4 linked regions of the Homo sapiens genome follow. The protein of the gene in region 3 purifies or fractionates together with the protein of the main gene of each other region. This does not show direct contact. Each region holds a gene or a part of one and is shown on either strand. Other genes may lie near its edges.

Region 1 (4,852 bases), on a different chromosome or scaffold from region 3:
CATTTGCTCTTTTATATAATGTTCTCTCTTCCATAGAATATTAAGTGAGAATGCATGGAACATGCACGGTATGGTGCCCGGCATTCGGTAAGTGCTCAAAAATACCTGTTCCCAGTGCTCCTCCAAATCCCTTCATAGATGTGAAAGGCCTTGATCTGGCCCAGATCAGGAGACACTCAGCACAGCTGTTGCCCCTCTGCCAGCAGTATATCTGCCTGCAGCATACATAAGACTTCAAGACCTTTGTGGAGCCACAAGTGGGAAAGGAGCCTGAGTCTCTGAAATACCATGTGAAAGTGACCTGCCCACTGATCGCTTTGGGCTCTTACATGAATGAGAAAGTTTCACTGTATGAAGACACTGAAACTTTGGAGAGTGTTCAGGAGCTAGCAGTACACTAAATACTTCACTTCCATCCTCAATATATCACATTCTCCCCTTTCACAAGCCCAGATGCTCAGTGCCAGGCCCTCCCTCTGGACCACAGAGGTCAGCCCATGAAGCTCTAGGCTCTATGCCACAGCCCTGCCTGCCATCAAGAACCAGAGTAAAACCTTCTACACTCTATCTCCATGACCTCAATGATTTTAACCTTTAGCTCCCACAAATAAGTGAGAACATGTGAAGTTTGTCTTTCTGTGCCTGGCTTATTTCACTTAGCATAAGGACCTCCACTTCCATCCATGTTGTAGAAGGATGGTTACCAGAGGATGGGAAGAGTAGTGGGGGTGGGAAATGGTGGTGGAGGGGGGAAGTGGGCATGGTTAATGGGTACACAAAATACTTAGAAAGAAGACCTAGTATTCCCTAGCACAACAGGGTGACTATAGTCAAAATAATTTAATTGCACATTTTAAAATAACTAAAAGAGTATAATTGGATTGTACATAACACAAAGGATAAATGCTTGAGGTGAGGTGATGAACACCCCATTTATCCTGATGTGATTATTATATATTACATGCCTGTATCAAAATATATCATATAATCCATAAATATATACACTTACTATGTACCCACAAAAATTTACTAAAACAAATCAGAGTAAGAAAAGTGGATGGAACTCTCTATAATAAATTCCATGCTTGGTCTTGGCCAAGCATTATATAGTGCCTTAGACCAACAGTGGTATCCCTGAGGAATGGCATTCTCAATGTCTCCCGGATATTCTGAAACCTAAGGAGAAAACTGCTCAAGAAAGGAATCAGGAGACAGGTGAAGGAAACTCAGAGACACTCTCCATTACCTGCGTCCTCACTGACAGTGAAAGCCGTGTTGCCCAGGGACACAGTCGAGGCATCGTTGGGACCACTAATGAGCACCTTGGCTGTCGCCACCCTTCCAATGCGGGCATTGTCAGAGGCATCTGCCAAGGCAATCTCAAACTCTTCTTCCTCTTCATACTCGCTGTCATCAATAAGCATGACATCACAGGTGGACATGGTCACACCAGGCCCGAATATCACACGACTCGCGGCAGACATCCCTCTAGATTTAAAATCAGAGCCTGATTCTAGAGCATAGAGGCTACTTCCCATAGCTGACTTAGGGACTGTGTAGCAAATTGCAGATACAATGCTGCTTGCATCTCCTGAAATACAAATGGCAAAAAACCAAAGCATTTGAATGAGTGCTTCTCAGATTTTAAAACCTCTGGTAAGTTAATGAGCTTGGTCCCTCCCAAACAGTCCATCACTATTTCTGTTCAAACTCTGACATAAAACCTTCCTGAATTGCAGTTTCTTTGAGCCTGTGGTATAAACCACTTGAGGATTTAATATACCCCAGATACTTCATCAAACAACTCAAAATGGATTTCCTATTCTGTGAATTTTGTGCTCTGTTAATTTGCAAGACTCATTGCCCACCATCTAAGACCACAGCAGGTGGAAAGATATGACACATATTTGGTACTTTAAGTAGGAAAGTAATTGTGTCCTGAAGGTAGTGCTATAAGCACAGTTCACTGCCTTTCTGAATAAACTTCTATACTTTAATTCCCAGAAAGAAACAGGCTTATTTAAAAAGAGAAAGACAAAACAAAATAAAATCTGCCACTGTATACAAATGACTTTACTTATTAGGGCTGCCACTTCCCTTGGTGACAGCCTGTTCTGGGCCTGGCTTGGTGGCCCAGAGCAATCAATGAGGCTTGCTTGTTTTCCAAGTGGCATTACCAAGGGTTTTTGCTATCTACAGTATTTGTTACACTAATACCCAGTCAGCAGATTCAAGAAAGAAACCCAAAATCATCATTTACAGTCTTGTTGTGCCTTTGAATGGGGGTTCAATTTCCATGTGTTTTAAAGTCTCAATCTTGCACAATCAAAATTCCATATGATGTTTATTTTTATTTCCAACTCCTCAAGAATTGCCCTTTTATCAACATGCACAATTACTATGTATCAGTCAAAAATAAAACAAAAAAAGAATTGCCCTTTATTTCTTACACATAGTTTATTTCTCATCTGAGCTCTACATATGACTGTCACATAGGGAAATTTTCAGCATATTTCTGTCTTCCAAGAATAAGATGGAAAGCCAGTCCTTATGAACTGTAACTTCCCTCCTTGACCAAGGTTACTAAATATTTTATGGATTGGGTGATTGATTAAGAATACTGATTCATGAATAATTTAGAAGGCTAAATATAACCAGTCTTCTAGTCCAATTTAAGAGTAAATGGGAGCTCTAACAACTTGAACTAAGAAAAGAGGCTTTCTGATGGTAGTCACTATGGATAGAATCATCATCAGGGTTGTTGTGGGAACCAAATGAGTTAATAAGTGGAAAGTACACATGTGAGTTAAGATAATGCATGAGATGAGTGCTTAGCACATAATAGGAACTCAATAAATGTTAGCAATTATTATAGCTCTTTGTCACCTGTGGAACCAACAGACCTTTTCTTTCAATAGGTGCAAACAGAAAACCAGCGCTCTCGTTAACCCAGTAGATCTTCTTGTCAAACTCTAATGTGGGTTCATCCTCGGTATCGTTGATAATGACCTTCGCCTGGGTGAATTCCCCTAACAGGGCATAAGCTGGCATGCTGAGCTCCACAGTGAAACTCTCAACATTTTCAAACACGTCATCATCGTTGATGACAATGGTGCAGGACTTGGTGTCCTCTCGCTCATCAAACTGGACCTGTCACAAAGGAACCAACAAGAAGTTAAGCTGTGCCTCAGCTTCCCCTGCTCTGCTTCCCCAGGGCATCATAGGAAAAGAGCATCCAAGTCCAGTGGGCAGAGCACTGACTGAAATAGCTGGTTCTCCCAGCCCTGGTTCCCTGCTGCATCACCTGGAACACCCAGCCACCTCTTCCCATTCTTAACCTGTACAGGAGGGCTGCTTTATTGTATAAGGACATGAAGGAGCAAAATCTCTCCTACCATTGGTGACTGGAGAAAAACATGTAGTAACTCTTTATAGCCTGTCTTATTATCTCACTTGGGGCAGCAACAGTCATCATTTGATGACTCAGTTCCCTTTCTGGAAGAACTCTGGCCTTGGAGTATGAAGTTCTGTTCTCAGATCTGGTTCTGTTACTTCCAAGCTGTATTAGGTTATGAAGCTTTACAAACATCAGATTCCTCATCAACTAAAGAAAAGTCATAATATTCCTACCTCATACGCTTCTTGGGAGGACTAAAGGAGGTCTTGTATATGAAGGTGTTAAGTGTATTTTAAAGTACCAAACAAACATAAGATATTATCATTAGTATCACCATATTACTTACACAATTAAAATTGACATAGAATTCCAGTGTACTGAATAATGGAATTTAAATTCATAGAAAATTACATTATAAACAAGGTAGACTAATTTTAACTTGATATTTTGACTACACCCTTTGCCATTAAAATGTGAATCAATTTAGCCCAGTACAAAACAGAGAAATTATTTTATATGTACACAATTGTGAACTTATAGGGACTTATTCTGGTTTTACTTTGTTTTTTTTTTTTTTTAAAAAGAAAGAAATTAAAAATCTTCAAGTGAAACCACGACTATGGACTTGCCCAAAACTGAAACTGCAGGAAATGAGCCTGGACTATACTTTGTGTAAACGGAGATAACTGAAATATGTACAAAAAACAGACATAAATGTCTGGGGACACACAAATCTGCAAAAATTTTACTCAAACAGAAAATTATTAGTATATATCTAATCAACTAATAACACTTTTATTAAGCTTCATATTTTAAAACACTCCCAGTGAAATGAAACACTCAACAGATCTTTATGTAAGATCTAGAATACACTGACAGTCTTCTGTCTTTCCCTGAAAAACACAAGAATATCCTCCGTCTTATCATTTAGCTGAAAGACATTAGCTTATCTGTTCTTTCCTAATTCCTCACTTACATTTGACATTAGAGACATTAGCTTAGTCCAGCTGAAATGCCTCAATTAAAGAACAGAGCCCACTTCTCTTTACAGAGATCTGTGTTGCCATAATAACAATAAAGTTGCTTTGAAAAAAAAATTAAGTGTCAGACATTGTGCCCTCCATAAAAGATGACAAATACATGGGGCCCTGTATTTGTTGACTATTTAAGTTGACTATTTAAGTCCTCCTTTCTCTTCCACTTTCACTCTCTCCTTTTTCTTTCTCATTGCCACCTTTAATTACCACTGGTATGTAGATGACTTGCAAATTTCTCTCTGGACACCAGACTCCTCTCTGCACTGCCTGCCCATCTATACAGTGGTCAACCTGCTCTTTCTAAGACAATTTATACCTAACATAGCCAAAGCAAAGTCACGAGCACCAAACCTTGCCCAACCGGCTCCTCTTATATGTCCCTTCCTAGCAAGAGGCATCATCATCCATCTTTCAAATG
Region 2 (4,852 bases), on a different chromosome or scaffold from region 3:
ATCCATCTCATGAAAGATGAGTGCCGAACCAGTTCAGATTGGACTGTGCCAGGGTGTACAGAATACGTCGTAACGCCAGAGCCTGGTTGGGGGTGGCATGAAGAGAGGGTAAGACAGGACTTGATTTTGCAGAATAGCCCAAAACAGAAAAGGATGTAAATAAGCATGTGACCTTCACATATGGACTCTTTTGCCCATGGTGACATCAGAAGTACTGCTCACAGTAATTTATACTTCCATCTCACAGATCTAAGAAGGCTCTAGAGTAGACAGTGCTAAGGACCTCTGTGTATTTCTGACTGGAAACTCAAGTCAGGAATCAGCAGAGCCAAGACTCATCCTCTCAGCAGCACTTAACATCGTTGACCACCCCCTTCTTTTTTAGAGATGGGGTCTCCCTATGTTGACCAGGCTGGTCTTGAACTCCTGGCATCAAACAATCTTCCCACCTTGGCCTCCCAAAGTATTAGGATTACAGGCATGAGCCACCACACCCACCCCATCCCCTTCATTTTTTTGAGACAGGCTTGCTGTGTTGCCCAGGCTGGAGTGCAGTGGCATGATCTTCCTTCTGCCACTGCCTTCCAGGTTCAAGCGATTCTCCTGCCTCAGCCTCCCAAGTAGCTGGGACTACAGGGGTGCGCCACCACACCAGGCTAATTTTTGTATTTTTAGTGGAGACGGGATTTCATCATGTTGGCCAGACTGGTCTTGAACTCCTGACTTCAAGTGATCTGCCCACCTCGGCCTCCCAAAGTGCTGGGATTACAGGCGCCCATCCCCTTCTTAAAGTCTTCTTTTTCACTGGCTTCCATAAGCCTATGCCACTTCTGGTTTTCCTAACCTTTCTGGCTGCTCTGTCTCAGTTTTCTGGACCAGTTCATCATCTTCTACACAAACATTAAATGTTGGAGTTCTCGTGGCTCACCAGACTCCCTCTCCATAATTCTATGGTGCTCACATTTTGTCCACAGTCCAAACTGCTCCTCTGAACTGCAGACACACTGGGAGTCAACACAATGTGGTGGTTATGGGCATGGATTTTGTAGACAGACTGCCCAGTTTCAAATCCTGGCTCCACTCATTAGCTGTGTAACCTTGGGCAAGTTCCCTTTTGTGACTCATTTCTTCATCTCTAAAATGGGAATAATCATAATACTTACAACCTCACAGGGTAGTTATGAGGATTAAATGAGTTCATATATGTTAAAGGTCTTAAAAGAGTGCCTGATGCAGCTGGGCGTGGTGGCTCACACCTATAAGCCTAGCATTTTGGGAGGCCAAGGCAGGTGGACTGCCTGAGCTCAGGAGTTATAGACCAGCCTGGGCAACACAGTGAAACCCCGTCTCTACTAAAATAGAAAAAATTGGCCGGGCATGGTGGCGTGCACCTGTAATCCCAGCTACTTGGGAGGCTGAGGCAGGAGAATGACTTGAACCAGGGAGACAGAGGTTGTAGTGAGCCGATATCGTGCCACTGCACTCCAGCCTGGGCGACAGAGTGAGACACCGGTGCAAAAAAAAAAAAAAAAAAAAAGTGCCTGATGCATGGTAAGTGCTAAATGATACTTTTGCACATGCTATTTCAGGCCCCCAATCCTTTATGGAAAACGCTGGGGCCAGACATACTTCAATTTTTTTCTCTGATTGTAGAAAGGTAATATGAAATGTATACATACACTGCCTATTAATCTAATCTCCCTAGTACAGGAAATGTTTTGCTGCCAAATGAGTTTTGGTGTAAAGCTTTGAAGAAACAGAATTTTTCTGGTCTTTGTGGACTGACAGCTGCAGACACAGCTGTATTATTCCCAACTGCCTACTCGACATCTCCCTAGATGACCCATAGTAATGCAGACTCAGAGGTCCCAAATTGATTTCTACTTTTAAAGCCAAACCTGGTTCTTGCAGTGTTCCCGACATGCCCAATCAGGCAAAAGGGTTCTGATGAATGCCCACCTAAAGCATGCATCTCCAGTCAACAAGCTTTCCCAAACCAAATCTCTCTCAGAAGTTTCTACTACCCTCCAATTCCACCACCTAGTCCAAACTACCCTCATTTCTCACCTCTGCTGATGAAATCAACTGCTGCAACCCCTCTTGCCCCCATTTTGAAAAGGCTTTAATTTTAACCGTTTCCCATTGCTCTTAGAATAAACACTAAAATCCTTACTGTGGCCTCTAAGGGTTTGGCATCTACCTACCTCACCAGTCTCAGCTCAGATCTTTATTACTCTTGCTTTCTACAACCTACCAATGGTAACCTTCGCTGTTTCTCAAACTGAGCCCGGACCTTTGTACATTCTCCTCCTTCTGCCTGGAATGTTTCTCAGCCTCCATATTCCTTTTTTTTTTTTTTTTTTTTGAGATGGAGTTTCACTCTTGTTTGCCCAGGCTGGGGTGCAATGGTATGATCTCAGCTCACCACAACCTCTGCCTCCCAGGTTCAAGCAATTCTCCTGCCTCAGCCTCCTGAGCAGCTGGGACTACAGGCACACGCCAACATGCCCGGCTAATTTTGTATTTTTAGTAGAGATGGGGTTTCTCCATGTTGGTCAGGCTGGTCTTGAACTCCTGACCTCAGGTGATCTACCCACCTCAGCCTCCCAAATTGCTGGGATTACAAGCATGAGCCACCACGTCCGGCCCTTTTTTTTTTTCATTTTTTCAGACAGAGTTTTACTCGTGACGCCCAGGCTGGAGTGCAATGGCATGATCTTGGCTCACTGCAAACTCTGTCCCAGGTTCAGGCGATTCTCCTGCCTCAGCCTCTCCAGTAGCTAGGATTACAGGCGCCCGCCACCACACCTGGCTAATTTTTGTATTTTTAGTAGAGACAGGGCTTTCACCAAGTTGGCCAGGATGTTCTCGAACTCCTGACCTCAGGTGATCCACCAGCCTCGGCCTCCCAAAGTGCTGGGATTACAGGTGTGAGCCACCGCGCCCGGCCTCAGCCTCCACATTCTATCAGTACCTCTAATCCATTTAATTTCTAATCATCCTTCGGGGCTCAGCATGCAACTCACTTCTTCAGGAAAGTCTTCCCTGAACCCTCAGACTGAATAAGGTCCCCCCAAGACTCCCACTAAAATCCATTGTAAGTCCTGGTACTTCTCCTTTATAACATTTATCACAATTATAATTAAACAGCCACAACAAAAAGGAAACAATCCAGATGTTGTTAAGGAAATACATAAATACACTAAGGCACATCTATACTACGAAATACAACACAGCCAATACAATTAAGGGGTAAATCCATATGTACTAAATGGAAAGATCTCCAAGATACTGTGTTGGAGTTTCAGTTCCTTGTGCATGATACATACATATGTAAATGCATAGGAAAATTATTGGAAAGGGGCACACAAGCTGTTGATAATGGTCATATGAAGGGAGAAGAGCAGGGGGAAGAGGGGAATAAATGAAGGTGGTTTTTCACCTTAATTCTACATACTTCCATATGCTTTGAACTCTTTTTTTTTTTTTTTTGGTAGAGGAGATGAGGTCTCACTATTTTGCCCAGGCTGATCTTGAACTGGCCTCAAGTGATCCTCCGGTTTTGGCCTCCTAAAGTGCCTGGGATTAAAGGTGTGAGCCACTGTGCCTGACCTTATTTGAGCTTTTTACAATGAGAATTATTCATGCATTACTAGACTGATTTTACATTTAATAGTTTGTATAAAGACTTGCTAATTGTCTTTCTCCCCCGTTAGATGTAAACCAAACCAAAGAAGAGACTATACCTATCTTGTTCACCAATTCATCCCCTGTCCCCTAACCCAGTGCACGGAACAACATGGGCACTGAATACGTGTCTGCTGAATGGCTGAATGAATGAATCTTCTGTCAAACCAGGGTTCTTTTACTGCACCATAATGATTTTCCACTGAATCCTCACAACTATCAGAGTCACCTCATTCATGTATTAGTGAATTCTCACCACTGGACCCATCTTTCCACCTCCAGGCCACCCTAGCTCCCTGATCAACTCTTTGGATAGTTTTCACCATCCAGTTACCCTTATCTATCCTAAACTGATAAAAGATGTCATGCCCTGGGCACAGACTGGGCATAAGGACTGAGCTAACCACCAGTTTCCTTCCCATCTCACAGATGTTCATTTGGTAGGATGATCCTATTCCAACTATAGGGCACCTGTGCCTGATTCCTTGAGCCTGCATTCTGCCTGCCTCAATTCCTAGCACAGTTCACCCTCGATTTCCCTTCTCTTTATTAGAAATCCAGAGTAGACAGTGCTAAGGACCTCTGTGTATTTGTGACTGGAAATTCCCCTTCTCAAGCATATATTTCCCTCTTATTTGATGCTTTGCAAGGGAGACCCTGCCCCTCCATATTCCCAGTACCTGTTTTAGTCTACTGCCTTTATCTAGTGCCAGTTCAGGTCCTTCCCTCATACTCAGTCTCACTGTGAGTAAAAAATCTTGACTTGCTTATGAAGCCTGAATTAATTATGACAATAAACTGTGAAGTAGTCCCATTTACATATGAAGAAGGAAGTCCTAAAAGTTAAGTAATGGCCAGGTGCGGTGGCTCACACCTAAAATCCCAGCACTCTGGGAGGCCAAGGTGGGTGGATCACCTGAGGTCACGAGTTCAAGACCACCCTGACCAACATGGTGAAATCCTGTCTCTACTAAAAATACAAAAATTAGCCAGGCCTGGTGGCACGCACCTGTAGTCCCAGCTACTCAGGAGGCTGAGGCAGGAGAATCACTTGAACCTGGGAAGTGGAGGTCGGCAGTGAGCCGAGATTGCACCATTGCACTCCAGCATGGGTGACAGAGCAAGATCCCGTCTCAAAAAAAAAAAAAGTTAAGTAACTTGCTAT
Region 3 (5,583 bases):
TGGAAGTCATGACAGCTAGTCCCTTCCCCACATTCCTGCTGGGGCGGCCTAATGGCAGGTGGGAACTGACTTCATCTGTGAGGACCACACAAGCACCCCCTGTGATTCTGATGCCTGTCCATGAAATCTGTGTCCTCCTGTCTCTAGGGCATAGAGGAGCAGCTGGTGACTTCAGAGGCAGAGGCCCAGCAAAAGGAGCACACATAGAAGAGGGGGTGCTTTGGGAAAATGTGGTCTGCACGGCAGGCGGGGAGTGCTCTTCCCTGCTGGCACCATGCAGAGCTAGCTGAGGAGAAGGGAGCAGGGTGGGAAGTGGGGTTGGGGGCTGTGCCTCTATTAAGAGTGTCCCTTGACTGCTGGTCCTACCAGGGAGAGAAGAGAGGACAGGAAGGTGAAGGAGAGCTAAGCATGCATTGTGTACTCCTCCATTGTGGGCCTCCAAGAGCAAGAGGGAGGCTGGGGGAGCCGGGTTGAAGATCTTTGGGCCACTGGTGCTGCCCTCCATGCAGCCCTAGCAGGACGGCCTGAGAGCGACAGGTGGGAAGTGGGGTTGCGGGGCTGTGCTCTTTGACAGATGGAGGTGCCCAGGGCTGACTGAAGTGGAGGGAGGGGGCAGGAGAGTGGATCAGGGGCCTTGGCTTCATCAGGTGTGCCTCTGGACACTGCACCACCAGCCCACCCGGGCCTGGGAGAGGGCAGAGCTCGGGCTGGGGCCAAGAGGCTGGGCCTTCACTAGCTGTGCCCTCCATTGCTAGCCCCAGCCAGTGATCACCAAAGAGGAGAGGAGAGAAGGCACAGGATTCCAGAGGGAAATGCGGCTCCTGCCTGTGTCCCTGCTGGTCCCACAGCTGAGCAGATGGTGCTGGCCTAGTGCAGGGAAACCACCTGAGATTTACGCAGCTAACTTGTCTCCCAGCTTCCTCTCCGATTACCAGCTGGTCATCTCCTGAAATTCTGCTCACTGAAACGGACATGTGAGGACATGGTTTGGAAATCATTTTTAAACTCAGCAATCTGGATATGAGAACTTCAAAACAAAATTTAATTCACTATATGATTCCCAATGAATGCGACTTTCTTCAATGATGAATCGATCTACTTTGCTAAATGCTATGTGGCCTGGCACTGGAAGATGCACTGTGGATCGGTATGGAGGGTGAGCCGCAATGAAGGCGCAACCGCGTGCGGGGGTGAGCTGGGGACCGAATCACAGGGCCTCTTACCACAGCGGTCAGGCGTCTGGAGGGGGAGGCAGTGCAGGGCCCCGAAGATGCACCTGCAGAGGTGGCAGGCGCGGAGGGTCCAGGCTCCGTGCTCCAGGGCGCCGCATTCACTGAGAAGACGGGGACCTGCATCAATGCGGTGGCCCGCGCGCCCCTCGCCCGGCGCCCACTCCTGCGCCGCTCCCCCACCCGCGCATCCCTCCCCCGGCGCCAACTCCCGCGCCCCCCAACCCGCGCGCCCATCGCCCGGCGCCCACTCCCGCGCCCCCGCACCCGCGCGCCCCTCTCCTGACGCCTACTCCCGCGCCCCCAGACCCGCAGGTCCCTCACCCGGCGCCCACCCCCGTCCCCACCCCGCGCACCCCTGTGCCCACCTGCGCCTCTGGTCATGCTCGCAGTAGCGGCCGGTGAAGTGGGCCGGGCACACGCAGAAGCTGCCCAGCACGCAGGTACCGCCGTTCCTGCAGCAGCGCGGCCGCGCGGACGCACCTGCGGGGTCACCCGGGCGTCAGCCCCGCGCCCCCCGCGGCCCGTGGCCCTCCCCGCAGGGACGGGGCCGAACGTGGCCGCCCAGGGGAGGCAGTAAAATCAGCCTCCAGCCAAGTGTGTTTGCTCAGGTAAACCCTGCTTGTTAGGGATGTGAAACAAACTATCAGGGGTGCGGCCTGCAAGCCGGGCTTGCTCTCTCCCTTCCTTTCACATGTTAACCTCTGGCTGTGGCTTCACCTGACAGTGATTAAGCACAGGCCTCCTGGGCGGGACCACCCACGGGTGTGATGACGCCAAACCCACCGGCGAGGGGCCTCCTGGGGACGCGGTGTCTGGGAGAAGCCAAGCAAGAGTCCGCTGTTATCTTGGCTTGGGATATTTATTTTCAACACATTTAAATCACAGTTCTCTAGATCTGCAGCAAAATAACCATTGAAGAGCAAATACAACGTTTTACCAATGAAAGAGTAAAGCTTTTTAACACCTCACTAGGAACTGTCTCTAGCTTTATAGCTTTGTAAGTGCATCATCATTTGAAGATAACAAAATGCTCTCCTTGGATTTTATCCTGAATTTATCCTACATATTCTCAGGTCCTAAACTCTGAGTCCGCAGACTGAGATGACGCCCCGGATTTTGTGGGCAGCGCTGCAACTTACCCTCTCCGAAAGCCCGGGAGTAGGGGAGCGGCTCCTCCGGCCCCCAGCCCTCGGCGCTCCCAGTCACCTCTCCGAAATGACTGGAGGTCCAGTTGAGCGGTGACTGTCGGTGCTTCTGAGTGGCAACCTTGGTGACTTCCTCTCTACCGCCGTTATGTTTCTCTCTTTGATAGCCTTTAAAAAATATTGAAAATGTGAGACTGATAATGATTGAGAAACAAATATTTTATGCAATTAAAACTGAAATTATGAATAAAATGTTTCTTACTGTTTCCCAAATTGATGATCTGTAATGCCAAACTGACCGTAAACAGAAGCCTAGAATATTTAAAGAAAATCATTGAAGTTGAAAGTATCTTTAGAAGTATAAGCAGAAATTCACATACACATAAAAATACAATGCCATCATTATATATAAATATAAAATTATGTAAAATAATTATAATGAATAAGGCAATCATTTTGTAACTTGTAGGTTTTTGTTAATTTTGCTATGGCTTAGAAAGATTTTGAGACAGAAAGTGTACACCTCCTTTAATGAACAGTGGCTCATGCACTACGATTTATTCTGAGGCTCTTAAGACCCCTTCTTGGCTCTAAGATCTCATGACCTCTGTCCTTACCTGACATGGTGCCTCCAGGTCATTTTTGGTTTGAGAGTCTCCTTCTCTTAGTGCATTGAAGATCAGTTTCCAGGAAAGCTGAATCTGAAGAGTCTCTGCATTTGAAGGTGTCTTTACTCCAGGCCCCGGGGACACAGAATGGACGAGTACAGAAGATGTGGATGTTCCCTTCCCTTCCTCAGCCAGGAGAAACGGGATGGTATCTTGAGTTCTGCAGTCCCTGAGCTAGGGTCGGGGGCGCAGTGACAGGCAGGCCCCTCCGAGCCTGAAGAACAATTCCCTCTATGAGACCTGGCTGGGGGGTGGGGACTTGGGCTGACTCCCCCCAGCAGTGTTTACAGTGCTGACAGCAGCAGGAGTGACCAATCCCTGATGTAAAACATTGGTATCCAAGGTGACGAGCCATTTTCTCACTGGAAAAAAAAAAAAATCCCAACATGAACAAAAAGCTTTCACAGGAAGGTGGAGATTTTCTACTGCATACTACTTGTACTGGGAGATGGTGAGGGGCCCTGTGGGAGAGGGAGCTCCTGTGTGGGGCACAGGCAACAGCCTGGGGTCCCAGCCGCCCTGAGTGGGGAACACGAGGATAAGGGAAAGCACGTCACCCCTGCTTTAAGAGAGGCCCCCTTACTCTGCAGATGGAGCCTCTTCTCTGTGCCCAGCAAGTGGGGGAGGGGCACTGCCCCCATTTACTATAGGACCCTCTAGGGTAGGCACTATTATTATCCCCCACGTGAAAAGAGAGAAAGGGAGGCTTAGAGAGTTTAAGTCCTTTGGCAGTTAGATCTCTGAGAAACATGAATGGCACCGATATGATGAGGAGATACCCACAGGTATTTAAGGCGAGCCCTTAGGAGCACAGGCGCAACTGCGGCGCCCGCCCATCGCCAGAGGAGCCTGCTGAATCCAAACGGAACCCAAGGAAGGAGTGATTTGGGGTATTTTCTAGCACCTTCTAAATCTGCTTTTCTAACTACCAGAATAGGGACTGAGCCCCTTTTATCAGCACTAAAGAAGACACTTTGCAACCCAGTGTTGCAAATTGTTCTGTGATTTTAATATAAAAACTCATTTCTAAAAATAGTATTCTTCCTCCAAGGCTGAAATAGTCTTTAATGGTGATTTAATTTCTTACATCTTTACGTGTGAGGTTTATTAAAGAGGCTGTTAAATAAAGCAATAGGAAATTGGAGGACCGGGCTACCCTGGGGGGCCTCCCAGCAATGGGTCCTGTGGGCTGCAAGGACCAGGTCAAGGCCAGCAGACCCGAGTGGGCAGAGCACATGGAGGAAGGTGCCCCAGGACTTCATCAAGCATCTGTAAGTGCTGTAAGTCATGAGACAAACACCTTGTTAATTTTGTTTTTTAGAGGCAAAGTGTCACTCTGTCAGCCAGGCTGGAGTGCAGTGGGCGATCATAGCTCACCACATCCTCGAACTTCTGGGCTTAAGTGATCCTCCTACCCCAGCCTCTGAGTGGCTAGGACTACAGGCTCGCGCCCCTATGCCCAGCTAATTTTTTTTTTATTTTGTAGAGATAGGGATCTTGCTATGTTTCCCAGGCTGTCCTCTAACTTCTGGCCTTAAGCGATCCTCCTGCCTCTGCCTCCCAAAGTGCTGGGATTACAGGCACAAACCCACCGTGTCCGGTGAAAAACACACTTTATTTTTTTGAGACGGAGTCTAGCTCTGTGGCCCAGGCTGGAGTGCAGTGGTGCAATCTCGGCTCACTGCAACCTCCGCCTCCCGGATTCACACCATTCTCCTGCCTCAGCCTCCCGAGTAGCTGGGACTACAGGCGCCCACCACCATGCCTGGCTAATTTTTTTGTATTTTTAGTAGAGACGGGGTTTCACCGTGTTAGCCAGGATGGTCTTGATCTCCTGACCTCGTGATCCACCCGCCTCGGCCTCCCAAAGTGCTGGGATTACTGGCATGAGCCACTGCGCCCGGCCGAAAAATACACTTTTAAACTCAGTGGTTACTACTGGTTAATTGCATCATTTAATTATATGTAAAAGTAAGTACATTTTATGACTTTAAGTTAATAGAATCTTTTGCATGAGCTAAATTGTTTGTATACTAAAATGAAGATGTATATAAGCTAGATGATTGTATTTTTTGTATAAATAAGTTTTAAAACTGTTCATTTTACAGAGTGATATTGAAACCAAACCTCTCTGACAATAGTAAAGCTTTAAAAGCAGCCTCTAAAATCTAACTTTCCCCCACAGTTTATTTATTAAATTTTACCTTAGTGGACATTTCCAAACATACACAAAGGCTGGTAGAATGAGCCAATAAACCCAGGTTCAACAATTAAGTATCAGCCTTTGCCAATTTTATTTCATTTGTTTCCTCCCTAACTTTTTTCTTGAAGTTTTAAAAACTCCAATACATCATGACATTTCATATGTAGAGTAAGATTTTGAAAATCTGCACTTTATAAGTGGAAACTAGGAAAAAAAAACGTCTTGCCAGCAAGACAGAACTGAGAAGCAAGAAATAGCAGTGCGACGTGCTTAAGCTGTTTGCTTAAGCTCTGCAGTCGGCTCTGAGGAGAAGGGCTGATGGCCAGGCAATAAAG
Region 4 (4,852 bases), on a different chromosome or scaffold from region 3:
CAGTGAGCCATGATCACGCCACTGCACTCCAGCCTGGGCGACAGAGCAAGACCCTGTCTGAAAAAAAAAAAAAAAAAAAAATTAAGAAAGAAAAGGGATAAATAAGTGAGATGGCCAAGAGGTGATGGAAAGCACAGTGTGACGTGTCTGGGTGTGAACAGTCCTCAGAGCCTCCACCACACCCTGAAGGGAACACAGTGTACAGTTGATGCTACTGAGCCTGGTGTTACTGCCCCACTAGACAAAAACATGGAGGCTTGACCTGCAGCCCTGGACACAGCTTAGCCACAAAACAAATCCCTCTCGTTTTAAAAGTGTTGGACGTTCTCTAAGCAGTTTCTCCTTCCTGACCTCATTTTAGCCTCTCCAAAACCCGATGTGGTAGGGAAGTAGAAATTATGATTCTCATTTGATAGATGGGGAAACCAAACTGTGGAGAGAGGCCAGACACAGTGGCTCATGCCTGTAATCCCAGCACTTTGGGAGGCCGAGGCAGCCAGATCACTTGAGGTCAAGAGTTTGAGACCAGCCTGATCAACGTGGCGAAACTTCATCTCTACTAAAAAATACAAAAATTAGCTGGGCATGGTGGCAGGCGCCTGTAATCCCAGCTACTCAAGAGGCTGAAGCAAAAGAATTGCTTGAACCCAGGAGGCGGTGGTTACAGTGACTTGAGATTGTGCCACTGCACTCCAGCCTGGGCGACAGAACAAGACTCCATCACAAACAAACAAACAACAAACTATGAAGAGAAAGAGTGGCTTGGTCACGATGTTGGCTGGCAGAGCTGAGTCTAGAATCCAGGGCTGCTAATGCTCACACCAACACCCTTCCCTGGGCCCCTGTTACTCCAGCAGTGTGTGGAATAACTGTAGTACCTGGAAGGGGACAAATGGGCTCATTCAAAATAAGGGTAATGGCCTTCCACCCACCAGGCTGGCCACCTTCAACCATCCCCTGCAAACAATAATGAGGTCAACTCATCCATCCGGGTCAGGGCCCCAGCAGGCCCTTAAAATGCCCAGGACACTCCTGATTTCCATGGTGGGTGCCTGGTGGGTAGAAAGACCAAATACACCTGGTGAGAAATACCAGGAATTAATTCAGCACTGCCACTCTCATCTTCAGCAAGGGAAGCAGGACCTACTGGACTTCGTCTCTGCCCCATCTCTGTGTGGGTCTTACCTGGGAGGAGTTTTCGGGCCGCCTCCTCAGCCATTCTCAGGAGAGGCCCGGAACAGGGCCATCCAGCCTCTACTTCCACCCCAGCCTTCTTGGAGAGCAGATGAGCAGACAGGAGTCCTCCTACCACTACAGATGGCACAGAAAGCAAATGGCACAGTCCAAAGGGAAAGACCAAGGGATCAAGGATCTTTCCCCTGTGCGAGTTAAACATAAACACTCTATTGTGGGGCGCATGTTCTCAGGACCTCCTGAAGCTATTTCACGGGTAAAAACAAACAAACAAAAACCTCACTCTGTTGGGGTGGCTCACTGGGAAGGAGCTAGAGCCACCCAGCGAAAAAAGAGTCCCTTAATCCCACATATTTCTATGGTGTTAAGTTTATGGGGTTTTCTTCTCTTGGTTCATCACAGGAACAGTGGCTATTTTTTGTAAGTCCCTATTGTGTACCAAGCACTAAGTACTACTGTCCCCTCTTCGTATGAAGATACTGAGGTTCCATGAGATAAAGTGACTTGCCCCAGGTCACCCATCTAGTAGGTGGTAGGGCTGAGTATCTTTGATTCCAAAGCCCATGCTCATTCCATTTGTCACTCTGTCTGTCTCCCAGTCACCTGTCATACCTGGGGGGAAGGGGTAATGATGGTTATTACCTTTATTTTACTAATTTATCTATTTCAACTTATTATGCAATATGTAGAACTTTTTTTTTTTTTTTTTGAGACGGAGTCTCGCTCTGTCACCTAGGCTGGAGTGCAGTGGCGCGATTTCGGCTCACTGCAAGCTCCGCCTCCCAGGTTCACGCCGTTCTCCTGCCTCAGCCTCCCGAGTAGCTGGGACTACAGGAGCTCACCACCATGCCCGGCTAATTTTTTTGGATTTTTTTTTTGTAGACACGGTGTTTCACTGTGCTAGCCAGGATGGTCTCGATCTCCTGACCTCATGATCCACCTGCCTCAGCCTCCCAAAGTGCTGGATTTACAGGCATGAGCCACCGCACCCGGCCTACTTAGAACTTTTAAAAAGACACAAAGGTTCTTGGAAATACAGCTAAATAGATATCCTGAGTGGCCCTCTCAATGAAAATAACTGGTGACCCTAAGTTTCAAAATTCCCCTCCTCCCTGCAGAGGGGGAATAGGAGACCAAGGTCAGACCTGCCCCAAGTGGAAGTCTGATAAAAGGTCCCTATGCAGGCCAGGCATGGTGGCTCACATCTGTAATCCCAGCACTTTGGGAGCCGAGGTGGAGATCACGAGGTCAGGAGATGGAGACCATCCCGGCTAAAATGGTGAAACCCTGTCTCTACTAAAAATACAAAATATTAGCTGGGCGTGGTGGCAAGCGCCTGCAGTCCCAGCTACTTGGGAAGCTGAGGCAGAAGAATGGCTTAAACCCAGGAGGTGGAGGTTGCAGTGAGCCAAGATTGCACCACTGCACTTCAGCCTGGGTGACAGAGTGAGACTCCGTCTCAAAAAAAAAAAAAAAAAGTCTGGGCACGGTGGCTCATGCCTGTAATCCCAGCACTTTGGGAGGCTGAGGCAGGTGGACTGCCTGAGCTCAGGAGTTCGTGACCAGCCTGGTAAACACGGTGAAACCCTGTCTCTATTAAAAATACAAAAAATTAGCCGGGCATGGCGTTGTGCGCCTGTAGTCCCAGCTACTCGGGAGGCTGAGGCAGGAGAATTGCTTGAACCCAGGAGGCGGAGGTTGCAGTGAGCTGAGATCATGACACTGCACTCCAGCCTGGGCGACAGAGCGAGACTCCATCTCAGAAAAAAAAAAAAAAAGAAAAGAAAGAAAGAAAAGAAATCTACATGTATGTACCTTATGGTAAAACTGCAGAACACCAAAGGGAAAAATGATCTCGAATGCAGCCAGAATCCATGTAATAATAATTATTAATGCTGGGTGATGGGCACGTCTGGTTCATTATGCTATTTTCTCTACTTTTATGTTTGAAGTTTTCCATAACAAAAAGTTTTTAAAAGGAGAAGACAGCCAAAGTGAAAACCAAAACAAGATTCTCTACAAATAAATAATAATTACATTGACAGATTACTTCTTAACAATAATGAAACCAGAAGATAATGGAAAAAGTTTTTAACACAATAAGAGAAAGTAACCATCAACCTAGAACCATACACCCAGCAAAAATATCACTCAAAGGCCAACCAAAGGCAGTTGAATAAAGACATTTTCATATAAACAAAAGCTGGGAATGTTTATGAAGCACACACCTGCATTAAAGGAAATTCTAAAGGAAATACTTTAGAGAAAAGGTCTGAGACACGAAAAGAAAAAATAGTCAAAAAAGTGGTAAATAGGCCAGGCACAGTGGCTAAACCTGTAATTCCAGCACTTTGGGAAGCCAAAGCAGGTGGATCACTCAAGATCATGAGTTTGAGACCAGCCTGGCCAATGTGGTGAAACACCATCTCTACTAAAAATACAAAAATTAGCCTGGTGTGGTGGTGCACAACTGTAATCCCAGCTACTCTGGAGGCTGAGGCAGGAGAATCGTTTAAACCCAGGAGGTGGAGGTGAGCCAAGATCGCGCCACTGCACTCCAGCCTGGGTGGCAGAGTGAGACTCTATTTCAAACCAACAACAACAAAAAAAGTGGTAAATTTATGTGTAAATGCAAAACTTCAACAATATAGAACAAAAATTATAATGTATGGAAGGTTTAAAACAAATAACTAAAATATATAACTGTAGCATATAGGTCAGGATGTTCTCTAAGTCAGGTTTTGCATTATTCAGGAGGAGAACAAAGATTTTCATTAAATTTAGACTTTGATAAGTTATGTTTGTTAAATTTGCTTGGAAAACTATGTAAAAAGCTAGATATTGTGCATAATTTCCATATTAGTAAGAGGAAAATGGAATGGGGGGAAAACAATCTAAAGAAGGCATGAAAAAGGACAGAATAAAGGAACATAAAGAAGATGGCACAGGGCCAGGTGCAGTGGCTCACACCTATAATCCCAGCACTTTGGGAGGCTGATGGGGGGCGGATCACCTGAGGTCAGGAGTTCGAGACTAGCCTGGCCAACATGGTGAAACCCCATCTCTACTAAAAATACAAAAATTAGCAGGGCACGGTGGCAGGCACCTGCAATCCCAGCTACATAGGAGGCTGAGACAGGAGAATCGCCTGAACCCGGGAGGCAGAGGTTGCAGTAAGCCAAGATTGCACCACTACACTCCCGCCTGGGCGACAGAGTGAGACTCCGCCTCAAAAAAAAAAAAAAAAAAAAAAAAAAGAAGACGGCACAGAGAGCACAATACTGTAGAAATGAGTGCAAATATATCAGTAATTACAGTAAATGTAAATGGATTAAATGTGCCAGTTAAAGATTGTCAGAATGGATAAACAAAATATAATACACTATTTGCAAAAGATGTATCTAATCATAAAACTACAGAAAGATGGAAAGGATAGAAAAAGATACATGGGAAAATGTCAACCAAAAGAAAGCTGGTATCACTTATATTCCTATCAGAAATAAAGGTATAAGAATGACCTTCATTTACAGATGACAAACTGGGCTCAGAAGCTGGGAGACATAGCAGCAAGTACAGCCTCAAACTCAGGCCGGATTCCTAAACCAGGATTTTAGACCATGTTGTCCCTCTGCTCTCTTCTCTTTTTTAATCTTTTATG

The links. Proteins that work in one complex are often made in the same cells at the same time.
Region 1: the proteins of CFC1 (region 3) and FRAS1 purify together in Homo sapiens (affinity purification with mass spectrometry; one large-scale study listed by BioGRID and IntAct). This does not show direct contact.
Region 2: the proteins of CFC1 (region 3) and RDH11 purify together in Homo sapiens (affinity purification with mass spectrometry; one large-scale study listed by BioGRID and IntAct). This does not show direct contact.
Region 4: the proteins of CFC1 (region 3) and EDEM2 purify together in Homo sapiens (affinity purification with mass spectrometry; one large-scale study listed by BioGRID and IntAct). This does not show direct contact.

The regions. Positions count from the first base shown.
Region 1 is NC_000004.12:78,476,113-78,480,964, reverse strand, and holds part of FRAS1 (extracellular matrix organizing protein FRAS1 isoform 1 precursor), read right to left. Parts: intron 3,151-4,852; coding exon 2,904-3,150; intron 1,592-2,903; coding exon 1,247-1,591; intron 1-1,246. UniProt on the Homo sapiens protein: Involved in extracellular matrix organization. Required for the regulation of epidermal-basement membrane adhesion responsible for proper organogenesis during embryonic development. Involved in brain organization and function.
Region 2 is NC_000014.9:67,685,123-67,689,974, forward strand, and holds part of RDH11 (retinol dehydrogenase 11), read right to left. Parts: intron 83-4,852; coding exon 1-82. UniProt on the Homo sapiens protein: Retinol dehydrogenase with a clear preference for NADP. Displays high activity towards 9-cis, 11-cis and all-trans-retinol, and to a lesser extent on 13-cis-retinol.
Region 3 is NC_000002.12:130,596,271-130,601,853, forward strand, and holds the start of CFC1 (cryptic protein isoform 1 precursor), read right to left. Parts: upstream 3,306-5,583; 5' UTR 3,018-3,305; coding exon 2,995-3,017; intron 2,690-2,994; coding exon 2,640-2,689; intron 2,546-2,639; coding exon 2,372-2,545; intron 2,128-2,371; coding exon of another isoform or gene 1,946-2,127; exon of another isoform or gene 1,728-1,945; intron 1,713-1,727; coding exon 1,598-1,712; intron 1,334-1,597; coding exon 1,224-1,333; intron 1-1,223. UniProt on the Homo sapiens protein: NODAL coreceptor involved in the correct establishment of the left-right axis. May play a role in mesoderm and/or neural patterning during gastrulation.
Region 4 is NC_000020.11:35,136,695-35,141,546, forward strand, and holds part of EDEM2 (ER degradation-enhancing alpha-mannosidase-like protein 2 isoform 1 precursor), read right to left. Parts: intron 1,312-4,852; coding exon 1,186-1,311; intron 1-1,185. Other genes in the region: MMP24-AS1-EDEM2 (ER degradation-enhancing alpha-mannosidase-like protein 2), read right to left, coding at 1,186-1,311. UniProt on the Homo sapiens protein: Involved in the endoplasmic reticulum-associated degradation (ERAD) pathway that targets misfolded glycoproteins for degradation in an N-glycan-dependent manner.